Homo sapiens: one gene and its partner. The protein of the gene in region 1 interacts with the protein of each later gene in a biochemical or structural test. Each region holds a gene or a part of one and is shown on either strand. Other genes may lie near its edges. The genes, in order: MKS1 and RNF34.

Region 1 (4,020 bases):
TGGTAACCTCAGTTTGAAGTAGATCTGTACCAAAATGAAACAGCCTGTCAGAGTCCTTTGGATTATCAGTACCGTCAGGAGATCCTGAAGCTGGAGAATTCGGGTGGCAAGAAAAACCGACGAATCTTTACCTACACTGACTCTGATAGATACACCAATTTGGAGGAGGTATTGTTCTTTCTAGGGTCTCATAGCTTCCATCTTTGCTTCCTCTAGCTTTTTTGCCTCACTGAGTTCTGTGTGTTATGTCAGAGCCTAGTAAGGGGAGACAAGTAGCCTGTCTAGGAACTGCTGTGAGCTGCTGCTGCTGGCAGCCAGCCTGGAATAGAATGGGCACAGTCTACAGGTGGTGAGGCTGCTGCTCCCTTCTCTGCCTGCTAGAGGGCCTGGGGGAGCTGCCAGTATCTCTGATTATATGCTTGCAGAGTGCATACTGGGAGAAGTAACCACTGGGCTTGACTTCCTCCATGCATCATGAAAAAAGACAGGTAGTGGAGTCTGGAACAATATAGATAAAATTCATCAGGGGATTCAGCCCAAACTCTGAGTATATGGGTTTGAAGAGGAATTCAGTATAGCTATGGAAAATGGCTTATGTCCTCAATTTGCCTATGACAAAAATACCCTTGTGACCTTGTTTTACATTTTCTTCAGTCACTGCATTTCAGTTGCTTCTGTCTTCTCAGTAAGATTTTAAGCTCCTCGAGGGTAGAGCCTATTTTTTTTATTTTTGTCTATGACTCTGTAGGTCTCTGCAAGGAACAGGTATTCAATAAATGTTTTTGAAAGATTGACGTGCTTTCATTATTAGAGCTGTGGATTGATAACATTAGCTGGGCATGGTGGCATGTACCTGTAGTCCCGGCTACGTGGGAAGCTGAGGCGGGAGGATCACTTGAGCCAAGGAGTTCAAGGTTGCAGTGAGCTATGATAGCACCACTGCACTGCAGCCTGGGTGAGACCCTGTCTCTTAAAAAAATATATAAATTAAATAAAATTTGGGTTGTCTGTTTTGGAAAAGCAAATGAAAATGCAGTTAGTGCTCAGTTACCATGTGAGGATTTCCCACAAAATGCTTGTATCCCATTTGGCATTTTCTAACCACCTTGTTAACTTCAACATCTACCAAGCACACTAACCCAACTTTTTGTTGGTTTGTGCTCAGAGAATGCAGACTGATTTTAATATTAACATAAATAACTCCTTTTTAAAATCCAAAGGCAAACCATGATGTGGTAGAAATCTTCTTTGGGTTGTTTGGCTACTGCTCCCTCCGTTAGCATGTATAATTGTGAGGTGGCGGAACCTGTGGGGTTCAGGTCCTGGATGAGGTTTCAGGAGGAAGACTTCCCTTCAGGTACTTGGCTCCATGTGGCCCTGACCAGATGGCGTACACAGGGCTGCTTGCTTTTCCCAGCACTGTCAGAGAATGACCACTGCAGCCAGCGAGGTGCCTTCATTCTTGGTCGAGCGAATGGCAAATGTCAGGCGTCGCCGGCAGGACAGGCGAGGGATGTGAGTGCGGGCATGGGATGGGGGACAAGCTTTTACTTTTTATTTCCTAAAGTTGGGTAGTTTTGCATTTTTATCAGTGGTTATATATAGTATTCAAGTATTACTTTGTAATTAATTTAAAAAATAAATATAAAAATATAAAATATCTTCCTCACTCTTCATGTGGACATTTTTCCAAAGTGCCTCAGAGAGAGGGAAGGGATGTCATTTCTGTTTGTCAAATATTTTGGCTCTTAAAAAACAAAACAAAACAGTATGTCCACTAGCTCAAACTTCCCATTCTGAAGTGGCTCTCCACTGGGGTGCTCCATTGGGGTGTGCCAGGGAAGTGACCTTTCTGTGGTGTCTCCCAGGGAGGGCGGCATCCTCAAGTCACGCATCGTCACCTGGGAGCCCTCAGAAGAGTTTGTCAGGAACAACCACGTCATTAACACCCCTCTTCAGACAATGCACATCATGGCAGACCTGGGGCCCTATAAAAAGTGAGTGGCGCTTCTCACTGCCAGCTTAGAGCCTCATCCTTTTCTCCTCTCACCAGCTCTCCCCTTCCTGTTATTATCATCCTAGGTTATAGGGGAGGGAGGGACTTTTTCTTCCTTCTCTTCTTAGTTATGAGTGAAGCTTCTCACTGCCAACTCAGATCCTCATCTTCTTCTCCTCTCACCAGCTATCCCCTTCCTGTTATCATCCTGGGTTATAGGAGAGGAAGGGACTTTTTCTTCCTTTTTTTTCTTAGTTGTACTTGGAAGAAAGTTTTACCATGACAGCTCTCCCTATAGCCTCTGTTCTCTCCCCTGCAGTGGGCTCAGTATCTCTTCTTGTTTCCCTGAAGGACCATTGACCTCAACCTTGGTGTTTTCCTGATTTCTAGGCTTGGCTATAAGAAGTATGAACATGTCCTGTGTACTCTGAAGGTGGATAGCAATGGTGTGATCACAGTAAAGCCTGACTTCACGGGCCTCAAAGGACCCTACAGGTGAGGAGAGGAAGAAAGGGGTAGTGGAGACTGGCATTCCTTCCCTTGGTTGCACTTTTTGTCCCTAGTCAACTAGACTGTCAGAAAGTCCTTCATCTGTTCTAACTTTTACATTCCCAGGCAATGGTTCGTATTCTGTTCCAAGTCATAGGGCCTTAGAAAACCAGGGACTCCTTTCTCAGAAAATGTGCAACTGCACCAATTTGAAAGGGATCACTTCAGTGGTACAGTTAAATGACAGTGATTCTCTGTGCTGCTGAATGTAGGACCTGACCAGAACAGAGTGGGGTGAACTCAGCCAGGCTTTTCCTGTGGGCTGACTGTTCCTCATCTCTGTATCTTGGAAATGACAGAAATGTAAATTAGAAATTATCTGGCCCAACCTGTCCATTTTTCAGGTGAGAGAACTGGGTGGCAGGAATGTTGTGCCTTACAGTTTGACTGTAACTTCAAGCCAGAAATGGGCCCAGAACCTATACTTTCTGAGTCTAGTCTGGTGCCCTCTCTGCTTTACCCTTTTGTTTCTCTCTCCTGGTCGTCAATACAGCCACTTTTATCATCATATACTTTAGTGAGGTGTATGGCCCCTGATCGCTCATCCCTGGGCTGGGAGCTATCCCAGGGCCCATCTCTCATTATTAGAGTTGCTCCTTTCTGTGGTTTTGACCTTACAGGATTGAGACGGAGGGGGAGAAGCAGGAGCTGTGGAAATATACGATCGACAATGTTTCCCCCCACGCACAGCCGGAGGAGGAGGAGCGGGAACGGCGAGTGTTCAAGGATGTAAGCGCAAGTTCATTCCAAGTATCCAAGGGATGAGCCTCAGTGCCTGGAGCTGAGACCATTTCTGAACTTGATGTCAGCAGTTGCTCGGGAAAAGCCTTGCCCTTCATGGCCCCTTCTGACTTAGGCAGCATTGCTGACATATCAGACAGAAGTTTTTGATCATATTATAATAATAACAATAACCATTTATTTGAGCATTTACCATGTTCTGTGCTAGGTACTTTACATACCTTATTTCCTTTAGTCTTTACAACAACCCTTTGAGGTGAACACTTATTACCACCTTATAAGTGGGGAAACCGAGATTGAGGAGCTAAGTAGTCTGCCCAAGGTGGCATAGCTTGTAAGGGCGAGAGTCAGGATTCTGCCCCAGACCAGCTGACTCCAGGGCCTCTGCTTCACGGTAAAATGGCGGTGAGTCAGGTGCTTACGCCTCCAGCTCTTGCTGACCCTTCCCACTATTGCTTTTCTTCTTCCCATTCAGAACTGAACTTTGGTCTAGCTTGGGTTGCATCTTGAGTTTTGGTTTGGTTTGTTTCCTCAGCTTTATGGCCGGCACAAGGAGTATCTCAGCAGCCTCGTAGGCACCGACTTTGAGATGGTGAGTAGCTTGGCTTCCTGCAGCACTGTGAGCTGTGTTTAGCCGGAGCATTCTGACTGTGGATGAGTTACACTACCTCTCTTAAAGGCCCAAAGGTATACTCTACAGTGTGAAAAGGAAGTCAAAGAATAGCACATATAGT
Region 2 (3,500 bases), on another chromosome or scaffold:
CAACAAAGCGAGACTCCATCTCAAAAAAAAAAAAAAAAAAAAGCTGGGCATGGTGGCAGGCTTCTGTAATCCCAGCTACTCGGGAGGCTGAGGCAGGAGAATCGCTTGAACCCAGGAGGCGGAGGGTGCAGTGAACCAAGATTGTGCCACCGCACTCCAGCTTGGGCAAAAGAGCAAAACTCCGTCTCAAAAAAAAAAAAAAGGACAGGTAAAATTATAACAGTCCATACCTTTAAATGATTATATACCTCAAACTCTACAGCCATGGTGTGCTTAAAAGCATGAAAATCTGGCCAGGCTCAGTGGCTTATGCCTGTAATCCCAGCACTTTGGGAGGCCAAGGAAGGTGGATCTCCTGAGGTCAGGAGTTCAAGAACAGCCTGGACAACATGGCGAAACGCCGTCTCTACTAAAAATACAAAAAATTAGCTGGGCGTATTGGCAGATGCCTGTAATCCCAGCTACTTGGAAGGCCGAGGCAGGAGAATCGCTTGAACCGGGGAGGCGGAGGTTGCAGTGAGCCTAGATCGCACCATTGCACTCCAGCTTGGGTGACAGAGTGAGACTCTGCCTCGAAAAGAGGAAGGAAAAAAAAAATAGCCTGGGCACAATGGCTCATGCCTGTAATCCCAGCACTTTGGGAGGCAGAGGTGGGGGAGCAGATCATGAGGTCAAGAGTTCGAGACCAGCCTGGCCAACATGGTGAAACCCCGTCTCTACTAAAAATACAAAAATAGCTGGCCCAGGCACCTGTAATCCCAGCTACTTGGGAGGCTAAGGCAGGAGAATTACTTGAACCCAGGAGGCAGAGGTTGCAGTGAGCCGAGATCACGCCACTGCACTCCAGCCTGGGTGACACAGCGAGACTCCATCTCAAAAAAAAAAAAAAAAAAGCATGAACATCTAGATTCACTAAGAGTTAATTTAAAGTTAGTGTTCAGCCAGGCACAATGGCTCACATCTGTAATCTCATCACTTTGGGAGGCCAAGGCGGGTGGATCACATGAAGTCAGGAGTTCGAGACTGGACTGACCAACATGGCAAAACCCCATCTCTACTAAAAACACAAAAATTAGGCCAGGCGTGGTGGCTCACCCCTGTAATCCTAGCAGTTTGGGAGGACAAGGCAGGCAGATCATGAGGTCAGGAGATCAAGACCATCCTGGCTGACACGGTGAAACCCCATCTCTACTAAAAAAACAAAAACAAAATTAGCCTGGCGTGGTGGCGGGCACCTGTAGTCCCAGCTACTCGGGAGGCTAAGGTGGGAGAATGGCGTGAACCCGGGAGGCAGAGCTTGCAGTGAGCCGAGATTGCGCCACTGTACTCCAGCCTGGGCAACAGAGCGGGACTCCATCTCAAAAAAAAAAAAAAAAAAAAAAAAAAAGATTAGTTGGGCATGGTGGCACGTGCCTGTAGTCCCAGCTAGTCGGGAGGCTGAGGCAGGAGAATCGCTTGAACCCAGGAGGCGGAGTTTGCAGTGAGCCAAGATTGCGCCACTGCACTCCAGCCTGGGTGACAGAGCGAGACTCCATCTCAAAAAAAATTAATAATAATAAAGTTAATGTTCTTTTAAGTAAAGGATTCATCCACAGTTCTTTAGAGTATGCACTCTTAAAACTGGAAAAACTTTGTTCTAAAAAATTTAGTTTGCACGTTACATTTTTTGGGGAAAAAAATACCTCAACTGCAGAAAGTACTCCCAGGATAAACTTCTCTTCATTCCAGGGTTAACAGAAGTGCAGTTTTACAAGTTTAGCTTCCTACTAATGTAGCTACTAAACCAACAGCTCTCTTAGCTTTTATCCCCCTTCTAATTCATGTCTGATGTTGCCTCCTGGACTACAGTGAAAGTTCCTCATGGACAAAAACTTCTTTTTCTCCTGCTCCTCTTTCCACCATGGTATGACTGACAAGTAACTGTGTAAAAAATTCCTATTATCTCTTCACAGACAATGTAACATTATAAAATTTTACATGCTATTTAGAAAGTTCAAAATATGTTTTCTTGGTAAAGAAAACCAAAAATCTCAAATGACACCCCTTTTTAAAAGCAGCACTGTCAGAGATTATGACCTTTGTATCAGGGATAGTTTTACAATGAATTAGGGAAGAATACAATTTTTCAAACCATGTTAATGAGTATGAGCATTAAAATTCTAGGCTGAAAATTTTTTTTTCAACTACACAGCTCTGGTAAAGGGAATAGAAGGACTTATTTTGGGAAAACAGATGGATTCTCTGTGTAGATACCAATTTTGGAGGGGGACAATTTTGTCCCATTCCTCACGTTTCTATACAAGGAAGGGAATTTCCTCTTTGTTCCCCAGAAAGAAAATGAAGAAAAACACTTAATTTAGCCCTCATTATAAAATAAAAAATTAAAAACAGGCCAGGAATGGTGGCTCACACCTGTAATCCCAGCACTTTAGGTGGCCAAGGTGGGAGGATTGTTTGAGGCCAGGTCAAGACCAGCCTGGGCAACATAGGGAGACTCTATCTCTACAAAAAATAAAATTAGCCAGGTGTGGTGGCATGTGCCTGTGCTCCCAGCTACTCGGAGGCTGAGGCAAAAGGATCTCTTGAGCCTGGGAGGTTGAGACTATGGTGAGCTATGCTTACGCCACCGCACTCCAGCCTGGGTGACGGAGTGAGACCCTGTCTCAAAAACAAACAACAAAAAAGCCCAAGCCAACCTCCAAAGTGTCCCAGGCAAAAATGTTGCTATAACCCAATATTCAGTACAACTCAGACACATATTAACTACTGTCAGCCAAATACTACAGGAATAGAAGGTAAAGAAGCAATCCTGAAAAATTTAGGTTGCAGCCTCATTAGAATCTCTGAACTTAAATTTGGGCAAAATCTTCCAATGAGAACATGATCTCCCAGTGAGAGAATAACCTTAGCATCATATTGAAGGGCAAATCCACTTATAGTTATCATCTCTGAGAGGAGCATTTGCAACACTCCAGCCTTCTGGAAAGTTCAGAAATTTGAAGCAGGGGAAGCCCCTGTCACTAGTATATTTGAAGTATTTTTTTTTTTCCCATCCAGCATTTTTTTTTTTTTGGTGGTTTTGAGACAGAATCTTGCTCTGTTGCCCAGGATGGAATGCAGTGGCGCAATCTCGGCTCACTGCAACCTCTGCCTCCCGGGTTCAAGCAATTCTCCTGCTTCAGCCTCCCAAGTAGCCGGGATTACAGGCACCCACCACCACACCCGGCTAATTTTTGTATTTTTAGTAGAGACGGGGTTTCACCATGTTGTCCAGGCTGGTCTCGAACTCCTGACCTCGTAATCCGCCTGCCTCAGCCTCCCAAAGAGCTGGGATTACAGGCATGAGCCACCACGCCAGCCCCATGCAGCATATTTGAAAATTTTAATTTCCATCTCCCCTTTAAGCCCCATATTTCCTGGCATCCCAGTGCTGAAATGAACATAATTCCTTTTCTTTTTTTTTGAGACGGAGTTTCGCTCTTGTTGCCCAGGTTGGAGTG

What was found.
Region 2: of the proteins of MKS1 (region 1) and RNF34, one has a biochemical effect on the other in vitro, tested with the Homo sapiens proteins (one study listed by BioGRID).

What each region holds. Positions count from the first base shown.
Region 1 is NC_000017.11:58,212,236-58,216,255, reverse strand, and holds part of MKS1 (tectonic-like complex member MKS1), read left to right. Parts: intron 1-12; coding exon 13-168; intron 169-1,357; exon of another isoform or gene 1,358-1,417; coding exon 1,418-1,515; intron 1,516-1,868; coding exon 1,869-1,997; intron 1,998-2,386; coding exon 2,387-2,491; intron 2,492-3,165; coding exon 3,166-3,274; intron 3,275-3,821; coding exon 3,822-3,878; intron 3,879-4,020. UniProt on the Homo sapiens protein: Component of the tectonic-like complex, a complex localized at the transition zone of primary cilia and acting as a barrier that prevents diffusion of transmembrane proteins between the cilia and plasma membranes.
Region 2 is NC_000012.12:121,410,118-121,413,617, reverse strand, and holds part of RNF34 (E3 ubiquitin-protein ligase RNF34), read right to left. Parts: intron 1-3,500. UniProt on the Homo sapiens protein: E3 ubiquitin-protein ligase that regulates several biological processes through the ubiquitin-mediated proteasomal degradation of various target proteins.